3 linked regions of the Homo sapiens genome follow. The protein of the gene in region 1 purifies or fractionates together with the protein of each later gene. This does not show direct contact. Each region holds a gene or a part of one and is shown on either strand. Other genes may lie near its edges.

The links. The genes of interacting proteins can lie anywhere in the genome.
Region 2: the proteins of PAK3 (region 1) and PALLD purify together in Homo sapiens (affinity purification with mass spectrometry, with the first as the bait; one large-scale study listed by BioGRID). This does not show direct contact.
Region 3: the proteins of PAK3 (region 1) and LPXN purify together in Homo sapiens (co-immunoprecipitation; one large-scale study listed by IntAct). This does not show direct contact.

Annotation. Positions count from the first base shown.
Region 1 is NC_000023.11:111,161,077-111,166,427, reverse strand, and holds part of PAK3 (serine/threonine-protein kinase PAK 3), read right to left. Parts: intron 3,514-5,351; coding exon 3,382-3,513; intron 2,867-3,381; coding exon 2,701-2,866; intron 1-2,700. UniProt on the Homo sapiens protein: Serine/threonine protein kinase that plays a role in a variety of different signaling pathways including cytoskeleton regulation, cell migration, or cell cycle regulation.
Region 2 is NC_000004.12:168,922,620-168,927,970, forward strand, and holds part of PALLD (palladin), read left to right. Parts: intron 1-1,635; coding exon 1,636-1,801; intron 1,802-2,325; coding exon 2,326-2,459; intron 2,460-2,613; coding exon 2,614-2,627; 3' UTR 2,628-2,659; exon of another isoform or gene 2,660-2,665; intron 2,666-3,593; coding exon of another isoform or gene 3,594-3,766; 3' UTR 3,767-5,351. UniProt on the Homo sapiens protein: Cytoskeletal protein required for organization of normal actin cytoskeleton. Roles in establishing cell morphology, motility, cell adhesion and cell-extracellular matrix interactions in a variety of cell types.
Region 3 is NC_000011.10:58,564,938-58,570,288, reverse strand, and holds part of LPXN (leupaxin), read left to right. Parts: intron 1-5,351. UniProt on the Homo sapiens protein: Transcriptional coactivator for androgen receptor (AR) and serum response factor (SRF). Contributes to the regulation of cell adhesion, spreading and cell migration and acts as a negative regulator in integrin-mediated cell adhesion events.

The DNA.
Region 1 (5,351 bases):
CTTGGGAGGCTGAGGTGGATCATTTGAGCCCACGAGGTCAAGGTTGCAGTGAGCCATGATTGTGCCAGTGTACTCCAGCCTGGGTAACAGAGCCAGACGTTATCTCTCACAAAAATGTAGTTATGATTCTTATCTCCATTTCACAGGTTAAAAATTGAGGCTCAGAGGAGTTAAGTGACTTGTCTGAAGTTTTCCTTAGACAAAGGCGTAATGGCAGAGAGAAGGCACAGAGAGGGTAATGGTGGAGCAGGAGCAGGAAAGTCTGCCTTTGTGGACTTTGGAGTATAGTTCACTGAATCTGCTTCATGAGAAGCACTGCTCCACTTCTCAGCAGGTTCACCCTGCCAAAATCTACAAATCCAATGTAAGGTTGGCAGTCACAAGTGGCCTGCTGGCTAGAGGGAAAATGACTCTCTCTATGCCCAAGCATGAAGTCCAGTAGAGAAAAAAAAAACCCCACTGAATTCTTAATTCAAATGTAATCAAAGTTAGCTTCCCCTTCTTCACCATGTTGCTCAGTGTAGAGCAGAATAAACAAAATAATAAGGACACAGCTCTAGCACCACTAGAGTTTACAAGCAAAACAAGATTTTGGTCCAAGAAAATAATGCTTGTTTCTCTGTCAGCTAACAAAACTATACAAGCATTTTTGTTGTAATACATCTATTGAGATTTGAAACAGATACCAAATAAGAGTCATTTTATTAAGGCAAGGCTGTTAGATTTTTAAAATCTGATATAATCACATAGGTCATGTCTACATATGCAAAATAAAGAAAAACGTGCCAATTGTCTGAATAATTGAACTTAAATTATCGAGGCAATTCTTTCATTTAGTTCTTCCTTTTTACAAAAATAGACAGTTCGGATATGCAGAAGCAAAGTAGGTAGGTAATGGAAAAAGTGTAAGCTTTGAAGGTAAACTGGTCTCAGTTCAAACTTTGGTTGTGCCACACATTGGTTTGGTGACTTGGTCAGTTAAGCCTTTTAAAGCTTACTTTCATTCACTGGTCTGTAAAATGAGGATATTAGAATCAGCTGCAAGGAATTACTGTGAAACTATGATAATGTATGTAAAGTGGCCCACCCAGAAGGTGCCCAATAAATGAGAATTATTACTGCTGTTATTACAGCAAATGGTTAGTATCAGTGCTAGTGGCATATTTAATCATGAATAGTAAAGTCAGCAAAAATCTAGCAATTGTAGTTCTGAGTTTTAACTGACAGCTGCAACTCCGACCTTTGCCTTTCCAAATGCATCTAACTCAAATGCCTCAATCTCAGTACTGTTGACATTTTGGACTGAATAATACTTTACTGTAAAGTGGATGGAGGGCAGCCGTCCTGTGCACTGTTGGGGTTTTAGAAGCATCCTTAGCCTCTACCCATTATATGCTACTAGCAGTCTCTGAATCAGGACAATAAAAATATTCTCCAGACATTGCTAAATGTCCTTTGGAGGGCAAAATCATCCTACCACCACCTCTGCAGAGCCTCCCTGTGGCCTATAGTGGGAATTACTGTCTTCCTTTTCTGAGGTCTTTTAAATAAAAATATGCATGAAACGAGATTATCTTATGCTCTAATTGTATCATACTATTAAATCGTATTTTCCAAAAAAGATTGAATTTCTTGATGACAGGAAAGTTTCATTCTATTGTGTCCTCCAAGGTTTCTTGCACAGAACAGACAAGTAGGAACTCAGTAAAGATGTATTTGTTTACTTATTTTTTTCATTCACTCACTCAACAAGCATTTGCTGTATGCCTTTATGTAATGGGTATGAACTAGGGGTTGGACATATAGGGAAAAAAGGGCACAGTCCCTGCTCTTGAGAATCTCACAGTCTAGTAAAGAAGTCAGACTAATATGGTTTGATATTTGCTCCAGTAAAAGTGGTAAGGAAGAGATGCCCTTAACATGGACTGGGAGGGACAAGCAACATCTTCTGAGGAGGCAACTTTTGAGCTGAGTATTGAAGGATAAGTAGGAGTTAGTCAAACTGGGGTTGGGGGGGGCACTTATTGCTGATATCTAGCAATTTGTTAGATGCTTTTATAGTATGAGTTTAATGAATATGCTTTACAAACCTTTGACTTTTCAGCAGATAATCCATTTTTTTTTATCTTCTTGACCCAGAAAAGTAACTAGAAGGTAAGTGTTTTATAAAACTGGGGCAACAAGTGTGTACACACGAGCATGTACACACTAATGACATTGTGGAAGGAAGCTACTAGCATTTGCTAGTTCTGTCTCTCCTGCCACATATAAATGCTTCTGAATTAAGGGAAAAAGCTATATTATTTGTTGTTCCAAGTTTTGATTGACTGTGTTGGGCTTTGAGGTTGACATATCTATCATCACTGATTAGTTGAGAGCCCTTGGGTTATGATCATAACATATTTTATCAGACTATTCTCTTTTGAAGATGTAATCTTAAAACTTGCTACTTAATTTGTCTTATCAATTTTCACCTCAATTGATTCCTTCAAGTAAAAATATTTAGTTCCTGTCAAATTAGGAGTGGAAGGGAGAAAGTGTTCTGGCATATGCAGTGAGTCTCAAATTTTTCATCTCATGATTTTGGGAAGTCTGGAGTTCATATAAGCAGATTAAAACTTCCAAAGGATCAATTCCCATTTTAAATGGCTTATGAGAAACACTCCCGTGTAGAAAGTAATCATGGCAAGAAGTACTCACTTAGCTTCTCTAAGATCTCCTCATCTGTCATCTTGGATTTTTTTCTTTGCCGATCTGTGTTCCTGTACAAAGTACTGGAATTGGCATTTTCAGCAGAGGGTGGTGTGACCTCTTTATTTGGTACTGCTGGTGAAGCAATGGATTCAACCACAGAACGAGTATAGATCTAAAAAAACCAAAAAGCTCTGCAATTAAAACAGCAGGCCAAGGAAAGAGTGTGGAGTCAATGTATTGTAATATCAATGAATTTTTAAAGACAAGTGGTATTTTCTTAAAAAAAAAAAGGACTTTGAGTAGCTGAAAGTACAACACTGTTGAAAGATCATGGGAGCTAGTCTTTGGATGTCCCTATACATGCCTTGCTAATTCTGGTCTGAGGATCTCTGTTTATGCAACTCTTCCTACCTGGTTTACATGGATTTCCTTCCTTACCTTAACTTCTCCAACATTTTTATTACTTAGCAGTTATTTATGTATTGTTTGGTATTATTCTCTAATTGTTTAATGTGCTAACCTTGTATCCTCAAACAGTATCCTCAAAACCTTGGTCATATTTTATACTTTAGCTCTTGGAACATAAAAGATGCTTAATAGGTACTAGCTGATTAACTATATTCTAACTCTATGACTATTCCAAAGGGCATCTTTTGAATCATTTGGAAATAGTCCTTTGTGACTTACTGATTTTGTATGCTCTGGTCTTGGTGCGATAACTGGTGGTGGCTCATTTTCATCTTCTTCTTCTTCTTCCTCTTCATCTTCTTCTTCAGACACAGGAGGGGCCAATGGAGGCTCAGATGCTGTTTTTGTACTCTTGTGACAAAAACAAAGTTTAAAGATCAGGTATTAACTCCTCATTGTTTTTCTTCAGAAATAAAACAAGGGAAATGAAATATTTAAGCATGTAGGGATAGGAGGAAACTACATCTTTCACAAATGATCAGAATCATCAACAATTTGGTGGCCAGGACTTGCTCACCTGAATACAATCTCTGAACTTATTCAGAGATAAATTCATGTCATGGCTTAAAAAACCATGAAGTGTAATTTTTTAAAAAACTTCTCACTGAGCTCAAAAACAGTGGACTATTATTCACTTAATATTTTAAAGTTCAATGTTTTTGAAATACATTAAAAATCAAACTAATTGCTCTTAGAGCCTTGAATCTATACTGGGCAGATTATCAATTTATTGATTGACAGTTTGTCAACTTGAAAAGAACTATTTTCTACCTAAGGATCAGAGCATGCATATACATATGGTATTAATATAGCTCTGTAAATACTCACTAAGAACAAACAAGCCAATAAATGTCTCTTCCCTGTCCAGCCTCCTGGAAAGAAGCACTCAGAGAGTAATAGACATGAAGATCTAAGAACTACTCATCCACATGAATAATTACTCAATATTAACCATGAGTTAAATGGAGATTTTCAATATTTTATAAACTGCAATAATACGACAGTATTGTGGTACAATAGCAACAATACCTAGGGACAGTTCTTGATCACTCATGTTAATACAGTGGTAAAATGGTTCCAAAGTTGGATTTTGAAAGAACTGTGGCCATGGTTCTCAAAGTGTGGTTCCCAGATCAGCATCATTAGCATCATTAAGGAACTTGTTAGAAATGCAAATTTTCAAGCTCCATTCAGACCTATGAATCAGAAACTCTGGAAGTGGAGCCCAGCGATCTGTATTATAACAAGCCTTCCAGGTGATCCTGATGCAAGCTCAAGTTTAAAAACCATCAACTATGGCTTAGGTCTGCACTGTTTAACATGGCAGTAACTAACCACATAAGGCTACAGAACACTTAAAATGTGGCTAGCCTGTGACTTCAAACTATACTACAAGGCTACAGTAACCAAAACAGCATGGTACTGGTACCAAAACAGAGATACAGACCAATGGAACAGAACAGAGCCCTCAGAAATAATGCCACATATCTACAACCATCTGATCTTTGACAAACTGACAAAAACAAGCAATGGGGAAAGGATTCCCTATTTAATAAATTTTGCTGGGAAAACTGGCTAGCCATATGTAGAAAGCTGAAACTGGATCCCTTCCTTACACCTTATACAAAAATTAATTCAAGATGGATTAAAGACTTACATGTTAGACCTAAAACCATAAAAACCCTGGAAGAAAACCTAGGCAATACCATTCAGGACATAGGCATGGGCAAGGACTTCATGTCTAAAACACCAAAAGCAATGACAACAAAAGCCAAAATTGACAAATGGGATCTAATTAAACTAAAGAGCTTCTGCACAGCAAAAGAAACCACCATCAGAATGAACAGGCAACCTACAGAATGGGAGAAAATTTTTGCAACCTACTCATCTGACAAAGGGCTAATATCCAGAATCTACAATGAACTCAAACAAATTTACAAGAAAAAAACAAACAACCCCATCAAAAAGTGGGCAAAGGATATGAATAGACACTTCTCAAAAGAAGATATTTATGCCGCCAAAAAACACATGAAAAAATGCTCATCATCACTGGCCATCAGAGAAATACAAATCAAAACCACAGTGAGATACCATCTCACAACAGTTAGAATGGCGATCATTAAAAAGTCAGGAAACAACAGGTGCTGGAGAGGATGTGGAGAAATAGGAACACTTTTACACAGTTGGGG
Region 2 (5,351 bases), on another chromosome or scaffold:
CTTGGATTATGATTCTGATAATGGTACCAAGATGTTTTCACATAAAAATGTGGTAAATATGTGGACTGTGGTGCTACAGGTTAGCCATGCTTTCAAGTTTTGTACAAAGTACTCTATATTCTTACATGCTACAATTGATTTCATTCCTCTAACCTCAAACTAAAACTTCACTTTTCTGCTGTTAAATATGCCTTTTGATCACATAGATACCTCAGTGCGCATCAGCTGGCACTCCTGTCAGAAGACGGTGATGCACAGTAATTGGAAGCAAAGTCTTTGGGGTCAGATCTGCTCCAGTCCCGGCTCTTGTCGATTTTACTAGTGTGACATTTGGCAAATAGCTATCTCTGCGACTTAGTTTCTCCATATATAAAATGGGAATATAATGCCTCACAGTGCTTTCCTAAGGATTAAATCATAAAAATGTGTATGAAGCTCTGCATAACTAGTACCCTGCACAGCAATGCTGCAAAGTGGTAGATGTTATTCTTACTGATGAGTTGCTATGACATTAAGACTTGTTTTATACATTTTATGTTCTTTGCAAAACTGGAGCCCCAGAAAGAATACAAAGTGAGCTTCTGTTCCCACTTCTCCCAGAATAGCCTAGGATGGGCAACCATGTAAAATTCAATAAAAATCCAACCTTCTAACTAACTCGTGGTGTTGGAGAGTATTAAGCATTTGAAAAGTTCAGGTAGAATTTTCATCCTTTTTGAGCTCTTTCCTAGCTGCTTTGCTGTGATATATCTGTCACTCCAGATGAGGGAGTAGTGGTGGAAAAGGAATGCATTCTCAGATTCATTGTTGGTAGTTCAAAAGAAAATAAGTAAACCTTATTCATTCTCTGAAGTACTTTCCACCACTACTACAACTGATCCAAGAAAACAATTTCCCATTGGATGGTATTATTCAGAGTGTTATTAACAATCAGTCCTGAATTTTTCAGAATAGTACTAAAGTTGTCTTTTTTTTTTAATGGGTTCCTTCCTTCAAGGTTATAATAAAGCTTTTTTATAACCTTCAAAGAATACAAAGTGGAATTTGTAATTTATAGGATATACATTCCTAGTTTACAGGTAACTATTTAAAGCTGCCAAATTTAGATAAAGATGCCTCCCCTTTAAATTGCCCCCTTTAAATTCTATGGCATGTCTCACTTAAGAGTTACAAATATTCAGAATATTCATGGCAAACATGGCAAACGGCAGTGAGGGAATCTAAGTGGTCAAATTCCTAGAAATACTTGTCCTCAGCACCACTAGGTGGCAGTAGTTGGTTGAGGCTGTGAATGATCGGTAACATAATCACTAGTAGTGAAGCCATCACAGATGCTAGCAATGACTTAGGAGTCTCCCACAGCTGGTCAGACAGGCATTCTGTGAAGCAGATGGCCAGTGGACAGTGTGAGCCTATCAGACTTGAATTAATTGAGGAAATAAATGAGCGGAATGAAGTATACAGACCTTTGCTTGGTAAAAGAATAATTTGGAGAGGGGACTAGCATCTTACCACCTGGAGTAAAAAATGGTATCATAAAAGATCTATTCAAGCAATATTCCAAAAGCCTTCTGAATTCTTTCTAGTGCTCCTTTTGTATATCATTGATAGAGAATTCATCTCATGTTTTCTTAGCTAAAGAAGCACACAAACCCCCTGTGTTTATTGAGAAGCTCCAAAACACAGGAGTTGCTGATGGGTACCCAGTGCGGCTGGAATGTCGTGTATTGGGAGTGCCACCACCTCAGATATTTTGGAAGAAAGAAAATGAATCACTCACTCACAGCACTGACCGAGTGAGGTAAGACTGCACAATGAGAACCTGATCCTTAACTGTTCAGTCCTAATGATGTATCAAAAGATACATTTTATATAGCATGGAAATCTATGTGTAAAAGCCACATAGATGTTTTGATTTTTGATGAAATCAATCAAAGACAAAAACCATGCGTTACCCAATGTAGGATTAAGCTTTTAGAAGGAAGCTATGGGTGTTTGATCTAATGGTGATTTCTTAAAAGTGTTTATCATTCTATCTAAAAGAAAAGATGAATTCATTTGCTTTAGTGATAAAAGACTATTCAGTGGTTTTTGTAAAGGCAGATCCTCAACTAGGAATTAAGCACACAGATGTATTCAACTCTTGACGTCTGTTCTTTCTCCCATTAACTTTAATGGAGCTAGTAATCTCTACAGAATAAGTATGACCCTATTATCAGCTACTTGCACAATTCTGTTTCTAATGATCTAATTAAAAATGATGCTTCATGTCCAAAGCCACTTTTAAAAAATTTAGAACCCTAATGACTTTATCCTTTTCTCCAGCATGCACCAGGACAACCACGGCTACATCTGCCTGCTCATTCAGGGAGCCACAAAAGAAGATGCTGGGTGGTATACTGTGTCAGCCAAGAATGAAGCAGGGATTGTGTCCTGTACTGCCAGGCTGGACGTTTACAGTGAGTGCCACTTCATCTCATTTCATTGCGTTTACTCATTAAATTATGAAAAATTAGACATCTGGACAGCAAATCACATTACTCTTTATAAACAACTATTGTGTTTTATTTGTCAAAAAAATTCATATTGCTCTCTCTCTCTTTCTATTTGTAGTTTCTCGACATTAATAGTGAACCACACCAGGAGAACAAATACCCAAGTATCATTCAGGAACTTTGAATTATTAGCAAAATATGCATGTTGATTTCTCTTACATTGGCTAGTTAGTTGTGGCTTCCTTACTCAAGCATCCTTAGGAGTTAACAGTAGGCAAAGGCATAACCATGTTTTTCACATGTTCTTGTTACTGTGTTCTGCAAATGACTGCCTTTTAACATTTCTTCCTATATTCTATCGCAGTGTCCTAATGCACTCTAAACGTGTGTTCCATTGATCCTGGAATGCGTACTTTTGTGGCTTAGTGCTTTTCTCATTAATATATCTTAAGCAGCCAGCAGTAGACTTGTGTTTGTATATTTGTGTACATGCATCCCAAATTTAAAGAAAATTATTCCTATTGAATTTACAGTCTAGTACAATCAGCATTATGTTATCCATTGACATAAAAAAAACACTAGAAAAAAATTAAGAATTTATTTAAGAATTTATTTCAGATTTTGCCTCTTCTTGAAATAACTATGTGAGGGTCATCAAGAAATGTGTGGCCTCAACCTTCCCTACTGTACGATTCCTTTCAGTTGATTAGTGTTAAAGCATCCACATCCAGCAGAATTCCTAAGTGCTATAATTATTTTAGAGAAAATATTTTTTAAAAGGAGAGGGGGGATGAGAATTAGGAAGCTTATCAGCTATTCCAAAGGATTCCCTGTGCTGCAGTGTTTACTTAAAAAAAAAAAAGATAAACTACACTTGACCTTTGTAATCTAGCTGCTTTATTCCCACTATCCTGTATAGACAGTAAATCTGCAACATGTGAGTAAAATGCAAAAGTGTTCCTAAATTTTCCATGTTTCTACCATGGATGTGTTCAGGTGCCTTGCATCTATCTAGACATTCTGTATTTATTTGAAATATCTAAAGGCTTTCCAAGTATATCTTGATTAAAAATCTTAATTTACTCTTTTTCTTTGTAGCCCAGTGGCATCAGCAGTCACAGAGCACCAAGCCAAAAAAAGTACGGCCCTCAGCCAGTCGCTATGCAGCACTTTCGGACCAGGGACTAGACATCAAAGCAGCGTTCCAACCTGAGGCCAACCCATCTCACCTGACACTGAATACTGCCTTGGTAGAAAGTGAGGACCTGTAATCCAGCATTCTTGTTAAAGCTGAAACACTGAAACAGCCATTGCCTTGACCAACATATTCCTTTGTCACATTATGTAAAAGGCAGAAACATACCTTTGACTATAAGAAATTAAAAAAAAAACACCAAAATAATATTTTTCTTACTTGATATACCAAACTTAGTTTAAGTAGATAATGCTAATACAAATATACACATTGCACAGAAAATACACATTTACTGTCCAATTTAAAACTTTGGAATTGCTGTGATTAAAGTGATCAAAATGCCAAAATACTAAAGGAAATCAATTGTTCACAGGTAACTACAATTTGTATTATCTACAAGTGCCTTTAAACACAAGATATAGGTGCTGTGTAGCCTGATAGTGTGAAATGTTTAATGAGGGAGTTGTACCACAAACAGTACTACAATGATTCTGAAGCACAGTGTATTCAGACAGATACAGTGAACCAAGTGCAATATGTAAGGATGAAAGAAGAAGAGATGACAAAGAAATCCAAGTAAATGCCTTGTCTTTGCAAATGTTTTTATATTAAATCATAAGGAAGGAACTACTTGCCTTAAATGTTAATATCAAAAGAGTTTTCTAACAAGGTTAATACCTTAGTTCTTAACATTTTTTTTCTTTATGTGTAGTGTTTTCATGCTACCTTGGTAGGAAACTTATTTACAAACCATATTAAAAGGCTAATTTAAATATAAATAATATAAAGTGCTCTGAATAAAGCAGAAATATATTACAGTTCATTCCACAGAAAGCATCCAAACCACCCAAATGACCAAGGCATATATAGTATTTGGAGGAATCAGGGGTTTGGAAGGAGTAGGGAGGAGAATGAAGGAAAATGCAACCAGCATGATTATAGTGTGTTCATTTAGATAAAAGTAGAAGGCACAGGAGAGGTAGCAAAGGCCAGGCTTTTCTTTGGTTTTCTTCAAACATAGGTGAAAAAAACACTGCCATTCACAAGTCAAGGAACCCAGGGCCAGCTGGAAGTGTGGAGCACACATGCTGTGGAGCACACATGCTGTGGAGATTGCAGTGTGTCTGAGGTTTGTGTAGTAGTGGAAGATTTTAGGTATGTAGAGCAAGTTGAAAATGGATTGAGACTGCATGGTGGCATAAATGAGAAATTGCCTGTAGCATCTAGTCTACTTGAAGGAAGTGGAGACATAAGGAGAGACAAAAACAGGTTTGTGCCATAAAGTATTTTTTCAAAGACACCAAGATGTGGTAAATGAAAATTATTAGTTCACTTCCCTGCTGCCATGAAACTTTGCCTTAAGAAGGTGCTGGATTCCAAGGTTTGTAAAGGCATCTCGGTAAAGACTGCTTTTTGAATGCATATGATTTTGCATCAGCTAGACTGAGTTGATTCTGACCAGACTTGATGGTTTTAAGTCGGAACCGATAAATTTTAAAAAGGAGAAAAAATAATTTGACCTAGTAGTATAAAACATGAGGCTTTAATGGTACTTTGCTATGAAAAGAAAACACTGTATTCCTTATGCAAAACACATGTATCTTTCATTATTTATAAGTGGCCTCTCTTAGCTCAGTTACTCAATTCATACGTAGTATTTT
Region 3 (5,351 bases), on another chromosome or scaffold:
CTCTGTCTCCAAGGCTGGAGTGCAGTGGCACAATCTCGGCTCACTGCAACCTTCACCTCCCAGGTTCAAGCGATTCTCCTGCTTCAGCCTCCCAAATAGCTAGGATTACAGGCACGCACCACCATGCCCAGCTAATTTTTGTATTTTTAGTAGAGACGGGTTTTGTCATGTTGGCCAGGCTGGTCTCAAACTCCTGACCTGAGGTGATTCACCCGCCTTGGCCTCCCAAATTGCTGGGATTACAGGCATGAGCCATCACGCCCAGCCGAGAACTACATTTTTTCTAATGAGCACATGGTCACAGGCAGAGTATTGCATTCACTGGGGATATTCTGATGTTACTGTGGGGGCATCAGAGATGCCTGTTGCAGTTTGACTGGAATGGTACTCAGGCCAGAGATCACCTGAGGAAGGCCAGGTGGCAGCATAGACAAGTCTTCTCAGGGTGACTTTTTAGGGTCACTACTTCCCAGGTCTTATTTTCTGCTGAATAGATTAGGAGATTCAATTATTAGTTTATATAGAGATGATGAAGCTCTAGGGAACCAACTCAAACTAACCAAATTGACAAGTGATTATATATATATTTTAAAAACCTAGGGCAGGTGCAGTGGCTCAGGCCTGTAATTTCAGCACTTTGGAAGGCTGAGGCGGGGGGATCACTTGAAGCCAGGAGTTTGAGACCAGCCTGGGCCATATGGTGAGACCCCCATCTCTACGAAAAATTAAAAAATGAGCAGGGTGTGGTGGTGCGTGCCTATGGTCCCCGCCACTCAGGTGGCTGAAGCAGGAGGATTGCTTAAGCCCAGGTGGTCGAGGCTGCAGTGAGCTATGATTGCGCCACTCCATCCCAGCCTGGGCGACAGAATGAGAGCTTGTCTCAAAAAACAAACAAACAAAAAAAAAACAAAACTCAGAAATCAAATTTACAGTTAAAGCTATCAAGTAAAACAGCTATATTTACTCATATATGCATTCTCTTCCTATGGATAAGTCTATATGGACGTACATTATAATTAAAAGGTTGCTTGATGAGAATGGAATTAGTGTAAGATGAATTAAGTAGATGCTCTTCATAGCTGGTAATTTTGTACTATGATATTTTGATTCATCATTGTTCCCTGTATGAAATAGCCAGAAGCACAGACCTGAAATTTGAGCTCAGGGGTAGTTTACGCCCTAACTGTTCTTTTCTCCAGACACATACACAATTTTAACGATACGAATTTATCTCTCTACTAGGGAACTATTGTCTTTGTTCTCAGTGTTAGATTATAGCTGTAGGCTCCTAAGTGGTCTCCTGCCCTTTGCCCCACTGCAGTCTGTTCTCAAGCAGCCAGGGTCACCTTTAAAAACTAAAGTCAGACCCTGTCATTCTTCTACTCAAAACCCCAAAATGACTCCCATCTCATTTGGAGTAAAAGCCATAGTTTCATGTTGATCTTTCTGGGGTGACCATATATCCTGGTTTACCTGAAAGAGTCCTGGGTTTATGCTTGTTTTTCTCACATCCTATTAACTTTACTTTTTACCCCAGATCTTCAATTTTATTTAAAGTTTTCTTATCAGTATTTGCATTAAGTAAGCCACTATGGCTTAACAGACCTCCTTCCAGCTTCTTCCATGGTCTCATCTAGCAGCGTATGAAACACATATTCAGTGAACAGTGCTCTTTTTTTTTTTTTTGAGATGGAGTCTCTTTCTGTCGTGCAGGCTGGAGTGCAGTGGTGCAATCTTGGCTCACTGCCACCTCTGCCTCCCAGGTTCAAGTGATTCTCCTGCCTCAGCCTCCTGAGTATCTGGGACTACAGGCATGCACCACCATGCGCAGCTAATTTTTGTATTTTTAGTAGAGACAGGATTTCACCATGTTGACTAGGCTGGTCTTGTACTCCTGACCTCAGGTGATTTGCCTGCCTCAGCTTCCCAAAGTGCTGGGATTACAAGCACGAGCCACTGTCCCCAGCCAAATTCTGACTTAATTATGGTTAAATGCAAAAGATGGCTAATGATAACTTGTCTTTTTTCTTGATTCTGTTCAGATGAAACCTAGCTAGCAGCAACCTTTCAAGAATTATATGCAGGGTGCTGCCTGTTAAAGCTAAGAGCTCAAGCACAAGTACCTCTTCTGATCTTAGGTGGTAGCAGAAGAATTTCTGAGGCTTTTCCCCCTGCTGGCCACTTTGTGAACCACCACTCATGCCCTCATGTGGTCGTGTGGTGGGTGGCCTGTGAGATGCGTGGAACCTCCTCAGAGTCAGTAGAAAATGGGAGAAATTGTGGCTTAATGTCATACAAATTATGTTTAGGAAATAGAGGCTAAGTAATTTTGCCATAGAGTATAGTGTAACCTAATTGTTTTATTAAAGCAGTTTTGTTATTATTTGTATATGTGAAGCTCTATTTGTTTTATTATATGGTAATGCCTTTTGAATTTTACAATAAACCCTTTCAGCAGTTAGCTCAAAACAAAACCCACATGTTTAATTGTCTCAAGAAAGCTGATAATGAATATGCAACGTGCAGAAAATATTTTTCAATATTTACCATGTACCATGCAGGCAAGTAGAAAGATCACTATCCCTTTGAAAACCAGAAGGTACAAATATGGTGAAGCAGCTTTGGCATCTATTTCCAAAGTTAATAATTTAAGAAGAATATGCCTTAAAATGACTTCAACACGGCAGCTGCAGGAGGCCTATGTACATGTCATTGTGAAGCACACCTTCCCATTAGTATCAAATAACTCATAAATTAATTTTGCTCATTTTCAATTCCAAGTTTTCTTGTACTTGTAAGTAAACTGGTAATAATTAATGAGTGATTTTCCTTTGCAAACCTTCAAATAATGTTTTTTATAATAATTTCCTTAGAGGTCTCAATTCAAAAATGTATTAATTCTGAAATGTTTCAATTTTGTTTTTTATCTAATTCAAACAATCAAAATAAAATATGTGAAAATTTATTTCCTAGTCAAAAAGTGAAACATCTGACATTGTTAATGCCACTGTAAATTTAGTTGAAAAGCTCAACATTGAAGGTAAACTGTTGTTTTTGTTGTAAGAATATGAATACAAATGTTAATAGAGCACAGCATTGTGTTAAAAATGTTCTTACCAAGTTAACAAGCTATGAAGCAGAAATGTACTTGGAATTGGTTGTAATGTGCACAAAATTTGTGACTGCATTCAAACAAGCTGCGGTATTCTGTCAGTCAAAACAGAAACTAAAATTGTCAAAATGTATAAATTATAAATATATATATACACACACACACACACACACACAGATTTTATAAGTAACTGATCTACAAAACTTTTCTGACAGAAGCTGATATTGAACACTACCATGCAAGGAAACATTTCAGAATGACTATATGTATATTCCTGTCTGTGTTGCATGTCATCAATTGGATTTTGGGAATGCCTGAGCCTTTGAAAAACCACTTTGTAAAGCAACCCAAATTTAGATTGCATTATGTTCAAGACCAGTTGGAAATTTTTAATCGATTACTGAATGAATGTAGCATGAAAATTCAGCTTTTGAAGCTTTTAGCAAGTTACAATTATGTAAAATAAGGCTTGCAAAGGAAGAAGCTCAAATTTCTCCCTACAAAAGCGAAGAAGGAGTTGAACAAATCAAAAGATGAAAGCAGATATGGTTTAATTATCTATTTTGACAATTGTGCTTCAGAAAAATCTTGACTTTGATGTATTTTGACTTCTAATTTTATTTGGATAAATTTTTATTCTCTACCAAAATGGAGAAAAATTGTGAAAGTCTATGATTTTGCAGTATCTAGATTTGGTGAAATGTTGAAACAATCACAGATATAGACAACTTGAAAGTTTTATCTTGTAAGAAATTATTGAGCAAAAGTGCTTTGAATGAAGGTAGAAAGACAGCACCTATGACGATATTGGCCTGAAATATTTACATATTTTAATCTAAAAAATGAGAAGATTCTTCATTTAGCAGAACTTACAGGTTCATCAGTATCTAGAGAGGAAATGTGTTCTCAGTTAAAAACATATAGTGAAGCATCAATTAAAGTTGTCCATAATTTCAAATATATTAACCATAAAATGAAGTTTTGAAAAAGATTGCAGTTTTATAAAAAAATAACTGTTTAAATAAAAAACGAAAAAAAACACATGTTCCTGAAAAATGTCCACATCCCAATGCTAGAGACAATAATATCTAAATAACCAATTAAGGTATGTGAATACATATAAAGAATAATTGTCTGTACCATTAAAAATGTTCAGATAATCAATTTTTTGTTGTTGTTGAGACAGAGTGTCACTCTGTTGCCCAGGCTGGAGTTCAGTGGCATGATCTTGGCTCGCTGCAACCTCCGCCTCCTGGGTTCAAGCAATTCTCCTGTCTCAGCCTCCCGAGTAGCTGGGACTACAGGCACCCACCACCATACCTGGCAAATTTTTTTGTATTTTTAGTAGAGACAGGGTTTCACCATGTCTGGTCACATGACACCAGGCTGGTCTCAAATTCTCCTGACCTCAAATGATGCACGTGCCTCAGCCTCCCAAAGTGCTGGGATGATAGGCGTTAGCCACTGTGCCTGGCCAATATTTTTTTAAAGTTGCTTGAATGTTCATAACTTTGTATCACTATCACTTTAAGATATTTCAGGAAATTTTTATTTTGAAAATAAATTTTGGATAGAATTATCTTATAGGTCCACCAATATAATAAGACCAAATTCAGGTCAATAAACACATTTTTTTTTTTTTTGAGACCGAGTCTCGCTCTGTCACCCAGGCTGGAGTGCAGTGGCATGATCTCAGCTCACTGCAATCTCTGCCTCCCGGGTTCAAGCAATTCTCCAAGCCTCAGCCTCCTGAGTAGCTGGGATTACAGGCACGCAACACCACTCCCAGCTAAATTTTTATAGTTTTAGTAGAGATGGGGTTTCACCATGTTAGCCGTGATGATCTCGATCTCCTGACCTCGTGATCCGCCTGCCTCAGCCACCCAAAGTACTGGGATTACGGGCGTGAGCCACCACGCCCGTCCAATAAACACATATTTTAAAAATGATACAAGCTCGTGACCCGTCTGCCTCGGCTGCCCAAAGTACTGGGATTACGGGCATGAGCCACCATGCCTGGCCAATAAACACATATTTTAAAAATGATACAATATGACTTATTTTTGGAACCCATTTTCTTTCTAAAAAATACCCCATTCTGAACGTTTGGTGATGTGGCCACCTCATCTGTATGATCTGGCCCCTTTACTTGCTGTCCCTGTGTCCTTGGTTCACTCTGCTCAGGCCACACTCTCCTTCTCGTGGTTCCACAGATGCTCCAGGTGGTTTTCCTGCTGGC